Homo sapiens: one gene and its partners. The protein of the gene in region 2 interacts with the protein of the main gene of each other region in a pairwise test. Each region holds a gene or a part of one and is shown on either strand. Other genes may lie near its edges.

The links. The genes of interacting proteins can lie anywhere in the genome.
Region 1: the proteins of KLHL8 (region 2) and ARMC9 interact in binary tests that used the Homo sapiens proteins (3 or more experiments, as listed by UniProt).
Region 3: the proteins of KLHL8 (region 2) and TP53I13 interact in binary tests that used the Homo sapiens proteins (3 or more experiments, as listed by UniProt).

Annotation. Positions count from the first base shown.
Region 1 is NC_000002.12:231,369,467-231,376,724, forward strand, and holds part of ARMC9 (lisH domain-containing protein ARMC9), read left to right. Parts: intron 1-486; coding exon 487-659; intron 660-2,046; coding exon 2,047-2,069; 3' UTR 2,070-7,258. UniProt on the Homo sapiens protein: Involved in ciliogenesis. It is required for appropriate acetylation and polyglutamylation of ciliary microtubules, and regulation of cilium length. Acts as a positive regulator of hedgehog (Hh)signaling.
Region 2 is NC_000004.12:87,161,619-87,168,876, reverse strand, and holds part of KLHL8 (kelch-like protein 8), read left to right. Parts: intron 1-945; exon of another isoform or gene 946-2,031; intron 2,032-4,797; coding exon 4,798-4,999; intron 5,000-5,234; coding exon 5,235-5,358; 3' UTR 5,359-7,258. UniProt on the Homo sapiens protein: Substrate-specific adapter of a BCR (BTB-CUL3-RBX1) E3 ubiquitin ligase complex required for The BCR(KLHL8) ubiquitin ligase complex mediates ubiquitination and degradation of RAPSN.
Region 3 is NC_000017.11:29,564,201-29,571,794, forward strand, and holds the start of TP53I13 (tumor protein p53-inducible protein 13 isoform a precursor), read left to right. Parts: upstream 1-4,500; 5' UTR 4,501-4,558; coding exon 4,559-4,630; intron 4,631-4,817; coding exon 4,818-4,886; intron 4,887-5,117; coding exon 5,118-5,159; intron 5,160-5,273; exon of another isoform or gene 5,274-5,389; coding exon of another isoform or gene 5,390-5,425; intron 5,426-7,390; coding exon 7,391-7,519; intron 7,520-7,594. Other genes in the region: protein ABHD15 precursor, read right to left, coding at 1,886-2,766.

The DNA of each region.
Region 1 (7,258 bases), on a different chromosome or scaffold from region 2:
ATTTTTAGTAGAGACGGGGGTCTCACCATATTGGTCAGGCTGGTCTCGAACTCCTGACCTCAGGTGATCCGCCCGCCTCGGCCTCCCAAAGTGTTGGATTACAGGCGTGAGCCACCATGCTCAGCCAGTTTCTTTTTTTTTTTTTTTGAGACAGAATTTTGCTCTTGTCGCCCAGGCTGGAGTGCAACAGTGCCGTCTTGGCTCACTGCAACCTCCTCCCAGGTTCAAGCGGTTCTCCTGCCTCAGCCTCCTGAGGAGCTGGAATTACAGGTGCCCGCCACCGCGCCCGGCTAATTTTTGAATTTTTAGTAGTGACGGGGCTTCACCATGTTGGCCAGGCTGGTCTCTAACTCCTGACTTCAGGTGATTTGTCCGCCTTGGCCTCTCAGAGTGCTGGGATTATAGGCGGGAGCCACCACACCCGGCCCCTCCTGTGGTTTCTAATGCTGTAGTAGCTGGGACTCCAGGTTGCACGTTTTGTTCTAGGGAATGTGCATCAGCCTTCACCTGCAAGCCCCGGGCCCCCTGCACTCCAGAGATGCTGGACTGGAACCCACCCAAGGCAAAGGCGTCAGTTCTGGCCCCTCTGTTCTCTTCGTGTGGCCCCCAGCAGGCCAGCCGCCCCGGCTCCACAGCGTCCTCCACAAGGGGCCTGCCGAGTAAGTCAGCCTGGGCCCCACTGGCGTGGGAGCCTGGCCACCCGCCAACCTGCAGGGAAGGGCATTTTGCTGCTATATTTGGCCCCGTGCTCCTGTGTGTACCAGGCCAGGCCAGAAGGGCAGAAGGCCTGCTTCCCTTCCCCACACAACCAGGCCCCAGCAGGTGGCTTCCTTTCCTCCAGGGACCGGTTCTGCATGAATCTTCCTTCCTATTAAATTCCCTTTGGCCTCAGTGACTCAAACTCAAGCTGAGGAGTGAGACCTCCAGGCAGGTCACTGAGAGAGAAGCCCCTCCCCACTTCCCTCTGTGGAGCTCACAGAGTTGGCCCTGAGCTGGCCCTGCTGCCCCGGGGTTGGCCCTGAAACTCGGACCTGCCCTGGTGGGAGGTGGTCCAGCCCCTGGTTCAGCCACTGTGTCCCTGCCTGGCCCAGCCTCGGTCAGGCCACCCCCAGGTCAAACAGAAGCGGGTGTCTGCTCGCAGGCTGGATGGAGGGGCCGCCAGAAGGGCCTGAAGATGGGATGGGCCCAAGGGCCCCCACTCTCTCCCTGGGGCCTCTCTCTCACCCTCTCACCTGAGGCTCACTGTAAGGACCACTTCTTTGTCTTTCTCTGTCCCCTTCCAGCCTCTGCCAATTGATAGCCCCTCCACCTCCACGCCCCAACTGAGCTGAACCTTTCTAGAGGGCTTTACCAAAACACAGGGAAAACAAAAGGACAGAACAAAAGGCCAGGCAGGACGAAAGGAGTCCCGCTTAGGATATGCGCATTTCTTTGGCCGCCCCCAGCCCGCCCCACCCTACTACCTTCCTGGCCAGGCCCTGGGCGCTCTGGTCAGCTGGGGACACGCTGGGTTGGAAGTGGGGGTAATGGCCATGGCTGGGGAGCCAGGTTGGGACCCCTCCCACTTCCCACTGGGAAACACACCCAAAACCCCAGCCCAGCCAGTCGCAGCCCAGGTCAGGCGCAGAGGAGGTGCAGCAAATCCAGGGGAGGCTCGGCCAGGAGGAAGGTGCCACTGGGGCAGGGATCCCCAGTCATAGCAACAGTGACACCAGCAGCTGGTGGCTGGCCTGGCCCCACATCTAGCAGCATAGCGTGGCCACGGTGTGGACAGCTCAGCCAGCCATGGGCGTTGTGTGTCCTGTGGGCTCAACAAACACGTGAGCTGTTGCCAGCAAAGCTGACTGAGTGACCCGCACCAAGCAGCCTGCTTCCTGTGAGGAAAGAGCCGGCCCGCCAGTCGAGCCCAGGCCACAGAACAGGTGACCTGGGAGAGGGAAGGTTCCCTCGCTTCTGAGCCGGCTGAAAGAGGGACTGAGTGGGACAGAGGGGATTCTGTGCGGAGACCACACAGCACTGGCATCTTGCTCTGGCTTTTCTCTCCAGGCAGCCAGTCTCACAGGAAGTAAGGATGTCCCCGGGTGTCCCCATCACGTTGCCGGAGGACCAGCCAGCTTCCCGCTCTCAGCTGGCAGCAGCTGCCGGTGATGGATGTGAAGGGACAGTTGTCCACAAGACTCTGGGAGCTGAGGGGAGGCCGGCTCTCCAGGCAGCACCAGAGCAAGGCCATCGCAGCCCCGCCAGCCGGGTCACTTTCTCCCAGGGCAGAGCCACCAAGGAGGGCTGGGGAGAGCCTGGCATTGCCCTCCTGGAGAGGGGAATTTCCTGCTCACCCTTCACACACAGAGGAGAGGGGTGGCTTTTGCCCGCAGGAGATCTTCTGGCCCCAGAAACAGCAGGTGCTGGATTTGCAGCCCTGGCCCTCCAGGCCCCAACAGGGCGACAGTGTAGGGCCAGCCTGGAGCAGGGCTTTTCCAAGGCTGCTGAAGCCAGCCCTCCTCACTTGGGCTGACTACCAGGACCCAGAAGGAACTCAGGGTGAAGCTCATTTTATTCTCAAGCCTGCGTCTCAGCAGCAAAGTTGGTGTTTTCTTCCTGTGTTAAAATCTGAGAAAGAAGGCCAGGTGCGGTGGCTCACGCCTGTAATTCCAGGACTTTGGAAGGCTGAGGCGGGCAGATCACGAGGTCAGGAGATCGAGACCATCCTGGCTAACGTGGTGAAACCCCGTCTCTACTAAAAAAATACAAAAAAATTAGCCGGGCGTGGTGGCGGGCGCTTGTAGTCCCAGCTACTCTGGAGGCTGAGGCAGGAGAATGGCGTGAACCCGGGAGGCGGAGCTTGCAGTGAGCCGAGATCGTGCCACTGCACTCTAGCCTGGGTGACAGAGCGAGACTCCGTCCCCAAAAAAAAAATTCTGAGAATATGGTGTGTTCCAGCCTCTTCAAAGCTCTGCTCTTCTGCACACGTTTTTTGAAGGCCTTAAAAAGGCCACCAGTGTGACCAGGGAGCACCCTCTGCCTCCCTCCCTGCACTGGGACCATAAACATAAACAGCTCTACCAGCAAAGTGACCCATCCCGCGGGGGAGGCCTGCGCACGCCCCTCACCAGGGCTGTCATCAGAATCCAGTCTTAGGACAGAGGAAGGATGTTTGCCTTCAGGACCAGCAAGTCACAGGTGTCCTGGATGTTACCCAAGCTCTAAAATCAAATAAAACCCATCAGTATTTAGTGGTGTGTGTGTGTGTGTGTGTGTGTGTGTGTGTGTGTGTGTGTGTGTGTGTGTGTGTATGAGTGTATGAAGGGAAATGGAAAGCAGAGAAAAGTCGCGTGCCCTCCCCCAGGCACCTGATCTGCCCACAGACCCTTCAATGGGGACATCTCTGGTCCCAATGGTCGTAAATAAAGGCTAAGCGCTGGATTTTTCCATGGCCCCCTGACTCCTCAGGAGCGCAGGCAGAGGAGGTAAACAGGAGGCCAGGTTACCCATGAGATGACCAGAAGCTCATCCAGGGCCGGGACCCTGGTTCATCTCGTGAATTCTTGGCAGCGGCTCCAGGCTGGGCACATTAGATGCTGTCATGTGACTGGCCTGGTGGCCACCTCTTGGTTCTCTGGAAATGTGTCCACTCTGTGCTCAGGGAAGAAGGCTGCCGTCCTGACCTGTCAGCCACCAGGCCCTCTCTGAACTCCTCACTTGACCCGGAGGCATTGGGAGCAAACACAAAGCTCGCCCCTGGTGTCAGTGGTGCAGACAGAGGAAAAGCAGAGGGTCCGCAAAATGCAACTCCTCCGTGGTGAGACTTTGAAAAGGTGTAGAGTGGTTGCAGACAAACAGCAAAGGAGTGGAATGGAAAAATCTCTCTTGCTCCCCACAAGAAGTCCACTCCCCTACGGATTCCTCAGATGCCACTGGCTGGCACAGCCTTTCCCGCCCTTGGTGTGGGAGCAGCAGAAGTCCAGCGGGGGTGGGAGAATCATCGGGGTCAGGTCAGTGTCTCCCTCGTCTGAAGTCAACCACTACTTTTCCCTCAAGCCTACCAAAGAGCTAAAGTCTGATCTGTAGATGTCTGATGGTTTGAGGAGAAGAAAAGATAGTCTTTTAGAGAAGTGGGGAGTATCCAACTTAGGGTCAAAATACACTGAGATTAGGCCGGGCACAGTGGCTCACACCTGTAATCCCAGTGCTTTGGGAGGCCGAGGCGGATGGATCACTTGAGGCCTCCAGGAGTTCGAGACCAGCCTGGCCAACATGGCGAAACCCCGTCTCTACTAAAATACAAAAAATTAGCTGGATGTGGTGGTGGGTGCCTGTAATCTCAGCTACTCAAGGAGGCTGAGGCACAAGAATAGCTTGAACCGGGAGATGGAAGATGCAGTGAGCCAAGATCACGCCCCTGCACTCCAGCCTGGGCGACAGAGACTCCGTCAAAAAAAAAAAAAAAATACATTGAGATTACCAGGTGGGGTATGTGTGGTTCTTCCAGGAAAGTGCTGAAAATATCACCCAGGCCTCTGCGCCACGCCCTGGGAGAGTACACTCCTGGGCTCACGCCTCTGCATTCCAAGGCTGACAGCTAGAAATATACTTTGTAAAATACCAACAACTTATTCACAAATATTCCAACTATCTACCAGCTCCAATGAGCTTGCTGAGGATGGGTATGACCCCAGTCTAAGGGGAAAGAATCTAAAACACAAGTAAACCTGTTTAAAGGCCAGATCTCCAGATGGAGATCCAAGCAGATGGCGCCTAAGGTTTGCCCTTGAAAACTACCAAGGAAGCCACAGAGAGGGATCTTTGGACCTTCTGGAAAATGGTAAGGCCCCAGGTAGATTATGGCTCCTCTGCCCTGGAGGCTGAGCCGCCCCTCTGGTTACCTCACATCTTCTGGTTTCTTCTGAGTGGGACTTGATCTCATTTCTGCATTCACAGCAAGGTGGAACTGTCTGGCAAGAGCTTAAATTAGGACCTGTGGTGGGGACTTTAATAGGCAGGTGGAGGTTTGAGATCCAGTGAGATGCCAGAGATTAGTCAATAGGTGAGGAAAGATTTGGCCCAAATCAAAAGAGCTAAAAAAAAAATAATAAAATAAAAATAAAAATAAAATAGTTGAACAAATAAGGTTCATGAAAAAAAAAGAAAAGAAAGAAAAGGTAAAGAAAAGAAATCCATGATAAAATATCAAACTTTTTAATAAAAACAAGTCTGGCCCTGTACTTGGATGACCCCACCTGGCTTGTCTAACCCTAATCCCAGCCCCAGTTTTAATAAAACTGTATTTACAAAATAGGCAGCTGGGACGTGGACCAGAGATACCAATTTGATTTTTTTTAAATATTACATTAAAATATTACATCATGTGTCTTCATTACTGAGTTTTGGGGTAGCCCTTTAAATTTTGTATGCAAGGTGAATACCTCACCCCTCTCTCCTGGCCTAGAATCTGGGGGATCCTCCTGTCCCTCCCACAGTGCCTGATAGCACAGCCTGGGGCTGGTGGTGTGCCTGTTTGCCTAGCTTTATCTCTCCAGATACTATTTGGGGTGTGCTGTTCTAAGAAGTGATTAGGTTAGCTTTTGCATATTAACAAACTACCTCTGAAACTTAGTGGCTTAAACCAACAAATGTATTAGCTTTATAATGATTTGGATCAGTGATGGGGGCTGGGCACGGACAGGCGATTCTTCTGCTGGGCTTGGCTGAACTCAACTATGTCTTATGGTCAGAGGGCAGTCAGGGGCTTCGCTCATGTCTGGTAGTTGGCTGTTGGCTGAGCCCTTGGTTCTCCTCTGGCTTAGGCTTGTTCACATGGTGGCCTCGGGGCTCCCATGGCAGTTAGAGAAATCAAGCCCAAGTCTCATATCACGTTCACTATTCTCCCATTGTCCAAAGCAGACCACATGGCCAAGGCCCAAGTCTGTGTGAAAGGATGTGGATACAGGGACCCCGAATGAACCAGAGGCAATACTGCTGCAAGCTACCACATAGATGCTGTTCAGAGCTTTGCAGGACCAAATCTTTTAGGGCTGTTTTTCCATTGTGGTATACCCTCTCCATTTAGATTCAATTGAACAAATATATTCTTTGGGGCTGCAGTGTGTCAGATGTGGAGACATGGTCCCACTGGCTTTCAAGTTGCCATCCATCTTCTAGGGAGAATTTCTGGCCTTTTCGGATGGCATGGTCCAGGCCGGAGCACCAGCCCCAGGTTGAAACATCAGGCAGGTTTCTAGGAAATGGTTGCAAAATTAGCAAAAAGTCAGGGCTACAGAGCCCTATCCAGAGTCGTCATCTTAAGGTGTCTACTAAAGCCTGGGGGTGGATGGGATCTCAGAAGGGGGACTAGAGAAATAGGAAACTGGGGACAGAACCCGGGGGTGAGAAAGAAGACAGCAGGTGTTGTGGGAAGTCAGGGACCCCAAACGGAGGGACTGGCTGAAGCCATGACAGAAGAACGTGGATTGTGATGATTTCATGGACATTTATTAGTTCCCCCAAATTAATACTTTTGTAATTTCTTATGCCTGTCTTTACTACAGTCTCTAAACATAAGTTGTGAATATTTCATGGACACTTATCACTTCCCCAGTCAATACCCTTGTGATTTCCTATGCCTGTCTTTACTTTAATCTCTTAATCCTGTCAGCTGAGGGGGATGTATGTTGCCTCAGGACCCTGTAATAATTGCATTAACTGCACAAATTGTACAGCATGTGTGTTTGCGCAATATGAAATCTGAGCACCTTGAAAAAAGAACAGGGTAACAGCAATTGTTCAGGGAATAAGAGAGATAACCTTAAACTCTGACCACTGGTGAGTCGGGCGGAACAGAGCCATATTTCTCTTCTTTCAAAAGCAAATGGGAGAAATATCGCTGAATTCTTTTTCTCAGCATGGAACATCCCCTGAGAAAGAGAATGCACACCTGGGGGTGGGTCTCTGAACTGGCCCCCCTCCCCCGGGGGCGTGGTCGTCTCTTATGGTCGAGGCTGCAGAGATGAAATAAACTCCAGTCTCCCATAGCGCTCCCAGGCTTATTAGGAGGAGGAAATTCCCGCCTAATAAATTTTGGTCAGACCGGTTGCTCTCAAACCCTGTCTCCTGATAAGATGTTATCAATGACAATGGTGCCCAAAACTTCATTAGCAATTTTAATTTTGCCTTGGTCCTGTGGTCCTGTGATCTCGCCCTGCCTCCACTTGCCTTGTGATATTCTATTACCCTGTTAAGTACTTGATGTCTGTCACCCACACCT
Region 2 (7,258 bases):
CAAGGATGAAGGTACAGACCCAATAAAGATTGTGTCTTAAAAAAGAAGGATATATATATATGTGTGTGTATATATATGTGTGTATATATACGTATATATATACACATATATATACACACACATATATACACGTATATATACACACATATATATACGTATATATATACACATATATATACGTATATATATACACACATATATACACACATATATATACATATATATATCTTTTAAAAAATAAAAATCTCCAGTGTTGCAGAAAAAAATATTATAAATTGATTTCAGTCCATAAAAAACAGCATGCAGCAGTTTGTGCTATCTTAAAAACCCCAACTCAGGATAACCCTAGGAGAAAATCACCTCCCCCCATTAAAGAAGAATTCTCTTTTCTATTCTTTCTTGTCTAAATTTCACTGCTTATTCCACAAAACGCCGAAAGAATAACAAGACTCAGTTCACATCCCTCAGCCCTTGTCTGTCTGTTAAGGCCAACACCAAGCGCTGTTCCTTAGGAGTCTTCACCTTTACTACAATCAGAAAATTGAGCCCTAATTTCACGGCCAGATTTCTAGAAACCTGCAAAACCCTCATAGTTCCCTCAAGGAAGGACCTGAAGGCCCCTTGAAAGATCAAGGGAGTATAAGTGTACTTGGCAGAGACTGGAATGCCTGCCAGGCTGGGAAAAGGGGGCCTTTCTACACAAAAACACCCCCTAAAATACCTTGTAGTTGAAAGTCTAACTAGGCAAAACCAAGTAACAGCAGGCATCAAACTATGGTTCTACCTAAAGGGTATATATCTTCCCCCTTTAACCATAAAGGTAAGGCGGGGGGCGGGGTGTGGGGTAAAGAGAGCCAAGTGAGCATTTGACTTCATCTGTCTTCTGAGAAGTTAGCATATTTTAGGCTGAAGCCATGTTGTAGAGACATTTGGCCAAAGGATAGTCTTTGCTATGTGTGGCTATATAAAGCTGCCATTTCTGGGCAACCTGGTTCATGGCTGCTTTATGGAAGCTTTACCCCTTATGCAGAGTATTTAAGAATTAATAGGAAATTTTTCAGTTTGATTTTGTAAGTGACAAATACTTTAACAACAGCTTCCCAATAACCACCAATGGAGACAGACTACTCCTCAGCTCAGGATCATAGCTCCTTCCAGTCAGTGGGCTTCTTGCTAGACATCTGCAGGAGCTCATTGGTCTTAGAAAATTGTCTACATCCAAAGAACCCTCTGTACACGGGAAGGAATGAGCCATCTGCAGCACATGGTGCTGCTTCCTGTGGATGGCACTGCCCTTCTTCTTAGCATAACAGCCCCAGAGCAGAAAGACAAGGCCATTCGAGTTCTGATTTAGCCAGGACACAACCGCATTGGTAAATTGCTCCCAGCCTCCTCTTTCCTTATGAAAATTGGCTTGATGGGGCAGAACAGTGAGGACAGCCTGGAGTAGGAGAACACCTTATTTGGCCCACCCAGATAAATCTCCATGACCAGGATGAATAAAACCATATCTGTAGATGGCTCTTTATAAATGTTTTCCAAACCAGGCAGAGGTGGAACAGGTCTTTGAACACTAAAGCAGCCCATGAACTTGATTCGGTCTCTAATATGGGTCCTGTCCTGGGATGACAACCTTCACATCTCTTATGTCACACATCTGGGTCCAGGTGAAGACTTAGTGTGGGGGTGGATAAACAGTGTAATGTTTCCTTTCTTCTGCGACAAATCCTTTTATCTTGATAAAATAACGTTTCCCGAATTCCATTGAGGTGCTTCTTCCAACTCTCACCAAAGCCCATGGACATGTTACAGGCCATGAGTCTTGAGTAGGGCCACAGCCTCGTTGCTCTGGATACTGACCAACTGCCCAGCAGCAAGAAGGGCAGCGTCTTGGGCTTGTCTTATCTGGCCGGGGCCTTCTTGGCAGGAGCGGCCCCCGCATCCTCACTCTCCTCACCATGGCTGCCCTGCTGGTCCCCAGGTCATCCGGCTCAGGGCTGCAGGCACGTTGCTTCCTGGTGGGGCTGTGGGAACGAATGCACACCACTTGGGGACTGCAAGGCTTGCCCTGGCTGTAGTGTTCAGTAATTGATCTATATTGCTTTTTGACTTACTGAATTGCAGAGTTGGGAGGAACATTAGATCAGTGATTTCTCAGACCATAATGTGCATATGAATAATCTGGAGATCTTGTTATATTGCAAAGGAGGGGCCTAGTTTCTGTGTTTCAAACAGTTCTCAAGTTATAGTGATGCAGTTTCAGGTTCACACAACACACTTCCAGTAGCAAGGCTTTAAATGATTATGAAACGGGAATAATGTCTATCTTTCAGAATCATTTTAAGAATAAGAGATAATACATGTTAAGCATCTCAAAGTGTTTCCGGCACTTTGTAGTTCCCCAGTACATGATTAGCTATATTGTGATTAGTAATACCTTCCTTTATAGAGGAGGAAATGAATTCAGAGAGGTTGTCACTAGCAAAGGTCACATTTGCTTATATATGTTGATGTAAATTGTTTGTGTTACTTAACATATTTCTTATAGATATTTATATGCTAACAATACAGCATTCTCTTATAAGTAGCAGAAGTAATGCTGAATCTTTCAGTGCTCATGTGTATTAAAGAAGAGGGGAAGTAACATAATTTACCTCTACATCTTGCCTGATTATCACAACAGCTCTGTAATGTAGTCAAGAGACTCAGAGAGAATGAATAATTTACTCATGTTCACATGCATAAATAAGTGGCAAAGCTGGAATTTGAACTTGGATCTGTGAATCCAAAGTTCTTATGTTACATCATTGCTACCTCTCACAGCTCCCTGTCTACCACAGGCATTGACATGTGTTATATGTCGACAGGAATAACATTGTTGCTGTTACTTTTTAAATCTTTTGGACCCTTATAATTAGAATAGACATGGTAAAAATAAGAATGATTCAGGTTGAACATTAAAAAAATCTTCTTGGTCATTCAGGTTCTACTTAAAACAGGTACAACTGATTTGAATAAGAAAAAATTGAAGGTGTGGGCATGTCTAACATCCTAATTGCATTTTGCTTTTTCTATCCCTGGTTTGAATTCTTTGTTATAATACATTTTTATGCATTATCTGGGGAAATGATAGGGAACTAGTGAAAAAGAAGACTATGGAAAATATAGCTATCAAAAACTTGGCCAGGTGCAGGGATTACCCCTGTAATCCCAGCACTTTGGGAGGCTGAGGCAGGAGGATCACTTGAGGCCAGGAGTTCAAAACCAGACTGAGCAACATAGTTGAGACCTCATCTCTATTTAAAAAAAAAAAAAATTAGCCAGGAGTGGTGGCATATGCCTATAGTTCCAGCTACTTAGGAGGCTGAGGTGGGAGGATCGCTTGAGCCCAGGAGGTTGAGAGTGCAGTGAGCTGTGATTGTGTTACTGCACTTCAGTCTGGGCAACAGTCAGACCCTGTCTCAAAACAAAACAAAACAAAAATTTAAAAAAACCCTTAATCTACATTAGCATGAGCAATAATTAAAACCAAACCCTTTATTATAATGAAAAAATGTTTTATATAATGGTTGTAATGGTAATGACACTATACATTTGTCAGAATTCATGGAAAGAATGCAGATAAAATTGGTGAATTTCATTTTAATTGATTTAATAAAATTAAACCCATTAGAGAGGTTGACTTGAATTTTTTTTTCTGACCTTTTTTTTTTTTTTTTTTTTTTTTGAGACAGAGTCTTGCTCTGTCGCCCAGGCTGGAGTGCAGTGGCACAATCTCGGCTCACTGCAAGCGTCCGCCTCCCAGGTTCACGCCATTGTCCTGCCTCAGCCTCCCGAGTAGCTGGGACTACAGGCGCCCGCCACCATGCCCAGCTAATTTTTTTGTATTTTTAGTAGAGACGGGGTTTCACCGTGTTAGCCAGGATGGTCTCGATCTCCTGACCTCGTGATCGGCCCCCCTTGGCCTCCCAAAGTGCTGGGATTACAGGCGTGAGCCACCGCGCCCGGCCTCTGACCTTGTTTTTATATAGATTGATCATAATATCAATACTTTCTATTCTCAGTAAATTAGGCTGTCACCAAAGAAAGCTATTATATTCATTTAGACTTGGAGCTCAAAAAGAGACACTTGTTTTTAAAGGAAGGAGCACTGTTGAAATAACAGTCTCTATAACCTCAGGAACAGATTAAGTACATTGCTAGAATGAGCTATAGAAAGGACTGCTATCTTCTGGAATATGTAGGAGGAAAATGTTGTTATGACAAAAATTGGTGAGAATTCAGTCATAGTCCACCATTTCTGTAATTATGATGGCGATTATAGTATTAAGGGAAACAATTGGAAAACTTTAACTTTTATCTGGATGAATCATGATTCAGTTTATTCCTTTCTTATGCCTTCTTACTGTTTAAGATATAATACACAGAGAAGGAATCTCAGTACTGTCTTGCTTGTCTCTAGACGGCTAAGGACAAATTTATGAATGTTTGTGTTTTTTTTTTCTTTTTCTCTGAATTATCTGCTTAGATACAGGGACTCCATTTTTTTCCTACTTACAAGATCTTTAATCCTAGTATTGAGGAAAATGTCACTTACCTAACGTGGAATTGTAGACAACATCTAATGGTAGTTGTTGGTGGTGGTAGACAGGTATTGGGATGAATTTTTTAAAAAAATTTTCTCTAAACCATTCTAAAATGATTTTAAAAGATTGGGTTGTAAAAGCCATTGAATTGAAATTTAGTAGTTAATTTCTAAGGAATGTAATGCTGTTTTTAAAATATTTCTTTACATAGGTGGTTTTGATGATAATTCTCCTCTGAGTTCAGTTGAGCGGTATGACCCCCGAAGCAACAAGTGGGATTATGTGGCAGCACTTACTACTCCCAGAGGTGGAGTGGGAATCGCAACAGTGATGGGCAAAATCTTTGCAGTTGGTGGTCATAATGGCAATGCATACTTAAATACAGTAGAAGCGTTTGATCCAGTGCTGAATAGGTAATTTACATGTTGTCTCCGTGCTTTATATTATCTTCTGGTATAATAGTAGATTACTTCAGAGTGTTAAAATGTTGCTAGTCGTAGTTAATACTAAGCTTTGGGATATCTTATCTCCCACTGGAAGCTTGCTGTCCTACAAAACCAGTCTCACATAGGGAATTTTTGTCTTTGGTTAGTATTTTGAGTAAAGTAAATTATGCTTTGTAACATTTTTTCTTCTCCGTCTTTTCAGGTGGGAGCTTGTTGGATCTGTGTCTCACTGCAGAGCTGGAGCAGGAGTAGCTGTGTGTTCCTGTTTAACTAGCCAAATTCGAGATGTAGGTCATGGATCCAATAATGTGGTTGACTGTATGTGATTTGAGTTCTGGCCACCAACAATTTAGTCATATCTGATAGGTACAAAAGAAAACCAAGATTTTGATATGACCACCTTTCAACACTTTTTACTGCAACTAGAGTCTTATTTAAATGTTAACTGTTGTATTGTGACTAAGTACAACTTTTGGAATGATACCTGAAGAATTATTAGTAATAGAGTTAAATTTGATACTTCCTGCTTTTGCAAATAATGGAGTAGGGAAGAAGATAGTCGAACTTAAAATCATACCTACCCTGAAAAATGCTTAAAGTAGTGCCAAAAATCTTGAAATCTCTCTCTCTCTCTCTATTTGGATGAATCAAAATGTAATTTGTTGAGTTTTGCCTTTTCTTTTGCCTAAAGATGTTAACGTCAGGCAGTGGGTTTTTCCTAGAGGAGAGATTAGTACCTATTCATTAACACAAGGATACATAAGAGACTTGCCCCTTTTGAAGATCATTTCTACTTGGTGCTGATGAATTTATGCCTAGCTTTTTTTTTCTAGGTGGTGATTTTTCAATTTCTTTTATATTTACGGAAGTAGAAAAAATGTTCTGTCTTTTTGAATGCCACTTAGCTGCATTTTCAGAAGCTTATAGGCTATAAGAAGCCTTTAATTTCAGTTTGAATTGCTAGGACACCAAAAGACCTAGCTGGGCTAACTCCATCCAAATGATTTTACAGTTTTATTTTTTCATCTTTTGCAAAAAGTATTTGTTACATAATCAAAAGGTGAACCAGAGGAAATATTGAACAAGGTTTTAGATCTGATGTTATTCTGGTGCCCAATTGAGAGACCTTGAGAAAGAATGATGCAGATTACATGACTCTAATGTGGGCAGTCTGAAAATATCTTTAACTGTCTTCTTTGATCATTTGATTTTGGATCCAAGATTTATCATCTCTCTATTTTGCTATTTGCCACCATCCTGGTTTTTCTGACTGTACAGAATCAATCTGCATTTATTTATTATCAGAAATGAATGCATTTTTACAAAAACCTTTTTGTAGACTGTAGTTTATTGATTAGTTCAAGCCCATCACGAACTAATTAAACATATTGTTGGTAAAAACAGAGATTGAAATTACTGTTTTTATCATATTTAAATCCCTCTGGTGTATTTATTGAAATTTAATTAAAAATATTTCTACATATTGATTTGAAGCCAGGATATTGATGGACCTACAGATTTAACAGCTCTTCAAAGTTTTAACTAGCATTATAAAATGGCCTATTCATTATATGTATATTTTTTTATAAATATTTATCAAGAACATGAAAATATTTTATTTTGTATTTGCAGTGCAGTTTGGCACCTCTCTTCCAGGCCTTCCTAAGTTTTTGTTAGTTGTGTCTTCGAATTTATTGTAGTTCACCGCTGGTCAGTAATCTGGTTCATAAGGAAGCTGGGGCAGTGAAAAACACTTCGTTGATCCATCCAGCCCTAAAGTTCATTGACTAATAGCTCATGCATCTTATTAAATGGGATTCTGGACTTCTACAATAGTGTGGAAAGCCACATCACAAAAAAAGCCACATCACAAAAAAAAGCCAGTGCCTATTGAGTATATCAAACCAAAAAAGAAAAAAAAAAGTTTTAAGAGGGGTCAGGCTGGCAGATAAAAGTCTCTTATGAAGCAGATATAAATCCAGTAAGCTATTTTTTTCTACCTATGGGCAAGTTCATAAGTCATTGCTGGATCTGAACCAGTGTTCTTTTGTGTAAGTACAACCATATTTCAGTCAGTCCAGAGGCAGTTAACCCTGTAGCACTTACTAGACTGGTGACAACTGGCTGGATGTGGAGAATAAGTGTCAAAACCTGGCTTCAATGTCTATTTCTTATGTCTAATGGAGTTCTTATATTACAGTGTTTGTTTAGCTATGGTTACTAATA
Region 3 (7,594 bases), on a different chromosome or scaffold from region 2:
CAGGTGACACCTCTGCTAATAATTCACATTTGACTTTAGGTTGCATTCATTGTTTTTATTTTTGCTTTTTAAACTAACATCCTGTCCTGGTAATGTCACATGAGTGTGATGTTGATCAGGTATACCTGGGGCAGATATTCCTAGAGAGTGTGCTGCCTGGCAGAGGAAGCAATTGAGTTGGTCATTAATTTACTGGGTGGATTCCTAAATGGGGGCCTCAGAGCAACTGCTTTGGGTAACAGGGAACATCTTTGCTGTTTCTAGACCCCTGGAGAGGGCTTGGCATCCTGACAAGGAGGCCAGGATGAGCAGCTCCGTCTTTTGAATAGCTCAATCCAGCCTCAGACAGTTGAAATTAGATGTTAATCTCTGACCAGGCATAGTGGCTCACATCTATAATCCCAGCACTTTGGGAGGCCAAGGCGGGTGGATTCCCTGAGTCTAGACATTCAAGACCAGCCTGGACAACATGGCACAATCCCATCTTTATGAAAAATACAAAAATTAACCGGGCATGGTGGCATGTGCCTGTAGTCTCAGCTACTCGGGAGGCTGAGGTGGGGGTCTGGCCCCCACATCCCAGGTCTTTCTGCTACACCACACTGTTGCCATAATGACTTCGACCTCATTCTGCCATCTCCTAAGAAAGCCAGAGTGCAGGCTAGGAATGTCACCTGAGCCCAGGAACTCAAGGCTGCAATGAGTGGTGATTCCACCACTGCACTCCAGCCTGGGCGACAGAGTAAGATCTTGCCTCAAAAAACAAACAAACAGCTGGGCACGGTGGCTCACACCTGTAATCCTAGCACTTTGAAAGCTGGGGCAGGCGGATCACTTGACATTAGGGGTTCCAGACCAGCCTGGCAAACATGGAGAAACCCCGTCTCTACCAAAAAAAATATTAAAAATTAGCTGGGTGTGGTGGTGCACGCCTGTAGTCCCCAGCCACTTCAGAGGCTAAGGCAGGAGAATAGCTTGCACCCAGGAGGTGGAGGTTACAGTGAGCCGAGATCATGTCACTACACTTCAGCCTGGGTGACAAAGTGAGACTGTCTAAAAAAAAAAATACTTTTAAAAAATAATAATTTTAATAAATGCCTACATATATGCGTGTGTGTGTATATATATATATAACATTTTTTTTTGAGACAGGGTGTTGCTCTGTCACCCAGGCTAGAGTGCAGTGGCCTGACCAGGGCTCTCTGCAGCCTCGAACTTCTGGGCTTCGGTGATCCTCCCATCTCAACCTCCTGAGTAGCTGGGACCACAGATGCATGCCACCACACCCGGCTAATTAAAAAAAGAAATTTTTGTAGAGACAGGTTTTCCTATGTTGCCCAAGTTAGTCTCAAACTCTTGGGCTCAAGTGATCCTCCTGCCTTGGCCTCCCAAAGTGCTGGGATTACAGGCGGGAGCCACTGCACCTGGCCTCAAATGCCACCATATTTCTGATTCCTGTCACCTCCAGGCTCAGAGACTGTGAGTAAACATTCTGGGCAGATAATCGTTTGCAATTGCTTCCAGAGTGCTCTTTGCTGAGCTGTTAAGCTGTGGGCTAAGTGGTAAATGTCAGGTATCTCTGCTGTCGTGGGCCAGGTGCTCAGATTGCTAGGATACAGCAGGGGGTGCCGAGATGAGGCAAGGGGCCGGGTTAGGAGTCCCTGCTCTAGCACAGCGATACTAGCTGAGTCCATCGATGACCTTTAAACCCGCTTCCCCGGTTCTGTCTAGATTACAGGGTTTGGAAGGCTTTGGAAGATGTGTTCAGAGAACTTTGCCCAAACTGGCCCACGCCTGTTCCAATGCTATGCATAGCTGTTTCTGATTCTTAGCCAGCTCAGGCCCTCTATTCTTTCCATGCTGGTCTGCGGCCTCCGTTACCCACCTGCTGAGGGCGATCTTCTGGTGGAGCAGAAAGCCCCGCTCGTAGGGCCAGGGCAGGCCGGCCTCGAACCACTCTCGGCAGCGCAGCACGGGCGAGATGCAGGCGGCGCCTGTCACGTAGCTGGAGGAGCCGCACTCGCCCAGGTAGGACAGGAGCAGCGCCGAGCCCGAGCCTTCGCTCACCGCGAACAGCGGCGCCGCCGGGTGTCGGAAGCGGATGTATGTGACCGCCTCCTTGAGGTCGGACGGGTCCCCGAAAGGCTGCAGCCGGGGGCTGACCAGTGGGCAACCGTGGTGGCCGCGGCGATGGAAGATGACCGGGTAGTAGCCGCGCTCCAGGGCGAGCAAGCAAAGGCCGAGCACGTTGCGGGTGAGGCGACCCCACGCATTGGGGATCACCAGAAGCACCGCAGGAAGGCCCCCGGCGCTGGTGATCCGGCGGCCCCGAACACAAGGTCCTACCACCCAGTCCAGGGCCACTAGCCCATCGTCCGCCAACTGCAGGTACTCCCGGGCCAGCTCAGGCCCAGGCGCTACGGGCAGGACGAAGTGGCAGAGGGTCTGCAGGTGGGGCCCGGAGAACCAGGAGCGCGGGCCGGCCTCCAGCGCCTCTGAGCGCCGCAGGGCGCGCAGCAGGCACTGGGCCAGGGCCGACGGCTTGCAAACAAGGCTGCACCCTCCCGGCAGTGGCTCGCGCCCGTCGCTGAACTGGTCCGCCGGGCCTCCGCCGTCCGCCTCCTCCCCGTCGTCTCGGTCTTGGGCCCCCGGCAGGGTCCTCTCTCCGACGGCGCGCCCCCAGGGTCCCCGGAGCCGCGGGCCGAGCAGGCCGAGAAGGGCGAGCACGGCCAAGATGAGCGCGAGGGCGGCGCCCCACGGCGGCATGGCGAAGCTGGAGAGCCCCGGCGGGCAGCGGGCGGCGGGGCCGTCTACTCGGCGAGCTCCGCGCTTTGCCCGCGGCTCCGCCCGCCGGCGGCGGCTGCCCAGGGCCCTCCCGCGCGGGCGCGCTCTGGATTGGCCGTGGCCGGGCAGAGGCAGCCAGTTCGGGCCCGGCTGCCCTCGCCCGCCCCCCACCCCCGCCCCGGCCCTTTGTACAGCAATTGCAACAAGTGGGAGCAGAGGGTGAGAGGAGCCGGGGCCACCAGGGAGGGAGGGCGCGCCGGCAGCCGGAAGGGAGTGGGGAGGGCACGAGCCGGGGAGAGCGGTGTTGGCCATGGAGACGTGGGGAGACTGGAGGCCGAGGCTTGGGGACCCGACTGTCATCAGGGTCTTCCGCCAGACCCTGGGCGCTGCGCCCTCAGAGGCCGATGAAAAGAAGCAGAAGGGAGAGGTGAGTAAGTCGCAGCTCCGGGCGCCGGCTCCCGGGACCCCGTGGGGCGGCGGCCGCGCGCGCGCTCTGCCCTCGGGCGGCCCTGCTCTCCCCCGCCCGGCCCCGCAACCCCGCAATAACTTGGCTGGGCGGGGTCCGGCACTGGGCTAGAGAGGTCGAGCGCGGCGTCTTGAGCCGCTGGCGGGAGGCTGCTGCTTCCCCGCCTGCATCAGTGCGGGTCCCGTGGACTCCTCGCCCCCGTCCCCGCGAGCTCGGGGCTCCACATCAAGGAAATCCTCAGCCCGGGAGTGGCTTCCCCAGAAACAGCAGCCCCAAGCCTCCGAGAGTCAGTCGGAGAAAAGGACACACTCAGGCGCCCTGCGACAGGGATGCCCGTCCGACCTACAAGGAACGCCTCGTAAACCGGGGTGCATGGGAGACCACGGAAATAACACGTTCTCGCTGTTTCCAAGCTTTGGGATAGGCATCTCGACCCTCGCTCTCTACCCACGTTTCCCCCCCAAATCCTGGAGAGGGAACCAGAACCAGCGCCCCGCTGCGGGGCGGGCCGGCCAGCGCACCTCCTGGGGGTGAGGCCTGTGGCGTCCCCATCTCGCGGCGACCAATCTCTTTCTAGACGCGCGCCTGCCACCGCTGGGCGACGGCGGAGGTGGGGAAGACAGCAGCCTCTCGGCTAGCTCCGGCCTCCCGGGGCTTCTGGGTTTGGAGAGTTTGGGGAGCGGAGACACCTCCCGAGGCTCCTCCGCGTTGGACCCTATTTGCGAGGGCGGGAGCGGGGTGGGCCGACGGCGAAGCTCCAGAGGTGGGACCCTCTCCCTTCAGCAGCTCTTCCTGACTTCATGATTCTGCCCCTCTTCTCATTGCAGGTCACACCGACAAATCTGAAGCGGGTTTGCCAGGGGAGTGTACCCGTCTCCCCAGCCTGGGCCACCCGGTCCACAGGGATTCCATTTCCGGCCTTACACTCCGCTCCACGATCTCATCCAGGCGCTGCAGCTGTGCAGCTGCTCTACAGACTGCAGGGACCTGCTGAGACGAATCCCCGGACGAGGAAAGGGGCCCCCCGCCTGCCCTACTGAGCCTTGCGCGCTGACCCGGTTCCTACACTTAACTTTTCCGGCTTCGGGTTTAAGACGCGTGCGCGCACACTCCGCTGCTGTGGGCGGGCATTGGGGCGGGGCGATACCGGGGGCCCACTGTCTGGGGAGGGGCGCGCGCGAGCCCAGGGCCAACGGACGCGCGGGCGGCGCGGGCGGCGCGGGGGCGCTGGGGCTGGAGGGGCGGGGCGCGCGCGCTCCCTCGCTGGCGGAGCGGCTGGGCGGCGGGCCGGGCCCGGGGCCGCTTGGAATGGCGCCTCCTCCGCCTTCGCCCCAACTGCTTCTCCTGGCAGCCCTCGCGAGGCTCCTGGGTCCCAGCGAGGTAAGGTGACCCGCTCCTGGGAAGGCCTCGGCCCGCGAGCTCAAAGCGCTTTGCCAAAAGTTCGTCCTGGAAGGAGTGGCGCGCCGAGGGGGACGCGGAGTTCTTCCGCTGGCGGGCTGGGCCTGGGGAGAGAGAGGGCAGGGCCTCGCCGCGTCCAGCGCCCCAACTCTTCGCTTTGGACCCACAGGTGATGGCTGGACCGGCGGAGGAGGCGGGAGCCCATTGTCCCGAGAGCCTGTGGCCTCTGCCTCCGCAGGTAGGAGCCCTGGAGGGCCCAGGGAGAGAGGGATGTGAAAGGCTAGCCCAGTCCCGCTCTGTTCTCGCCGCACCCTCCACAGTCACCATCTGAGGACCTCTGCCGGTTCCTCAGTCCTCAGTAGCCAACTTCTCCATCCCAGCCTGGCGCTTGGGGCCTGCCGTCCCCTCCCCACCACACACACACGGAGTCCCCCAACTGCCCTAAGCTCTGTTCTTTCCCCATGTATAGGTGTCACCAAGAGTGACCTACACACGAGTGAGCCCAGGGCAGGTGAGTACAAGCAGGGGCCCACCACCCTTGGTGTCCACGCCTGGAGACAGGCGCTCCTAGCAGGCTTCGCTGCCTGTTCTGCTGATCGGCCCCATTCCTTACCACTTCCCTCAGGCAGAGGCAGGGTTCTAGTTCTCTGCCCCACCTCCAAGCCCAGGACAGATCAGCCCCAGGACAGATGGCTCAAAGACAGTGAGCCATAGGCCTGTCATCTGCAATGCTGTGTCAGGATGCTGTTGGGTAGCTGGCTCTGTGGACAAGTGGCTGTGAGTGGAACTCTCTCTGAGAGTAGCTGGAAAAAACCCAGGCTCCAGCTCCCTGAGGAGACAGCGGGAAGTCTCCTGACTTTGTGGGCCCCAGCTTTCTGTAGGAGAGGGTATTAATTCTGTCTCTACCTGTGAGCAGCGAGGGAGGGTATGTGCCAGCACCGTGTACAGTACAGAGCTGCATCGTGCAAGGAGTGTGCCTCCAGTTGCCAGGCTCCACACTGCGGGCTCAGCTTGCGTGGTAGCATCTCCATCTTCATCGCCAGCTCCTCTGAATTTTCCTTTGAAATACTTATTATTATTATTATTTGAAATGGAATCTCACTCTGTTGCCCAGGCTGGAGTGCAGTGGCACTCACTGCAACCTCTGCCTCCAGGTTCAAGCAATTCTTATGCCACAGCCTCCCGAGCAGCTGGGATTACAGGCGTGTGCCACCTAGCTTAGCTAATTTTGTATTTTTAGTAGAGACGAGGTTTCACCATGTTGCCCACGCTGGTCTTGAGCTCCTGACCTCAAGTGATCTGCCTGCCTCAGCCTCCCAAGTGCTGGGATTACAGGTGTGAGCCACCATGCCTGGCCTGAAATACCTAACTTAAATTGGCCAGGCATGGTGGCTCACACCTGTAATCCCAGTACTTTAGGAGGCTGAGGCGGGTGGAACACCTGAGGTCAGGAGTTCAAGACCAGCTTGGCCAACATGGTGAAACCCTGTCTCTACTAAAAATACAAAAATTAGCTGGGCGTGGTGGCACACCCCTGTAATCCCAGCTACTTGGGAGGCTGAGGCAGGAGAATTGCTTGAGCCCAGGAGGCAGAGGTTGCAGTGAGCCGAGACCATGCCACTGCACTCCAGCCTGGCGACAGAGCGAGACTGTCTCAAAAAAAAAAAAAAATTCTCTGTAATAGCTCCAGGCCAAGAGTTGTTGCCTCACGCCACCTATCAGATTCCTTTCCTCAAACAGCCCTTTCATGAAGTCATTCCTCTGTTCACAAACTGTCAATGGCTCCTTATTTCCCACCTTATCGTGGCCATATTCTCCGGCCTGGCTTTTCAGGCCTTACTTAAGTAAGCTTCGTCTGACCTCTCCACATCCTTGGTTCCTCTCCAGTTGTGTCGGGCTGTTTGCCACACAAATGAGTGCCAGCCTCGCCCTTACCACAGCCCCTTTGCTCCTGTTTATTCTCCTCCACACCTGGCCTATCCTGACTCGGAGAGTGCAGCTCCCTGCCCTCCTGCCATACTCCCCCAGCCATCTTCCCAGTCCCAGCTGGCATCAGCTCCCCCTGAGACACTGCCCGATGGCATCAGCCTTTATTCCTCCCCTCCTCCTCTGAATCTATCTCTGATAATTTAACAACTAATCACTAAGTTTTATTAGTTTGCTGTTTTATTTGCATTAGTTGTTTCCCTGAGTTTCTCACACACTCCTTGCAAGCAGAGTCCAGGAGTTCTTTGGCATCTCCCACAGCATCTAGCACAGCACTGAGCACCAAGTCAACTCAATCAAAGAATAATGAATGATTGATGGAGTATTTCCATCCTGAGATTGTGCACCTGCTGCCTGCCTGCCCTGTATTTGGATGCTCTTGGGAGACTGTATAGATTGGATCGATGGTCTTCATTTGGGGGTTGCTTATGGCTTGGATTGTGGACCTGTAGAGCCATCGTTACACCTGCAGGGAAATATGGCTAGAGTGTGGTCTGAGTCTGGCAGGATTATCCAGGCATGCTGTGAGCTTTGAAGGGTGGCACTTGATGGAGAGGAAGGGTGAAAGGAACACTCAGAGGCAAGAGTGGGTACATGCCAATACCCAGGGCCCTTTGTCCTTTCCTGGGCCCTGAAGGTAGAAGAGCCATCCAGCTATCCTGGGAGTACCTTTAAACTGGTCCCCTGGATGGGAGAACTTGAGATTCTCTGGGAGGGCTCTGGGCCTGCTTTGATGTCTCTGTGCCTTTCCTCCAGGCTGAGGATGTCACCTTCCTCTACCACCCCTGTGCCCATCCCTGGCTGAAGCTCCAGCTTGCCCTCCTGGCCTATGCTTGTATGGCTAACCCTTCCCTCACCCCTGACTTCAGCCTCACGCAGGATCGGGTATGTAGCTGATGAAAGGCGCTTGCCTGGCCCTGGCAGAAGGCTATGGCCCCGTGTGCAGGGAATGGAAAATTC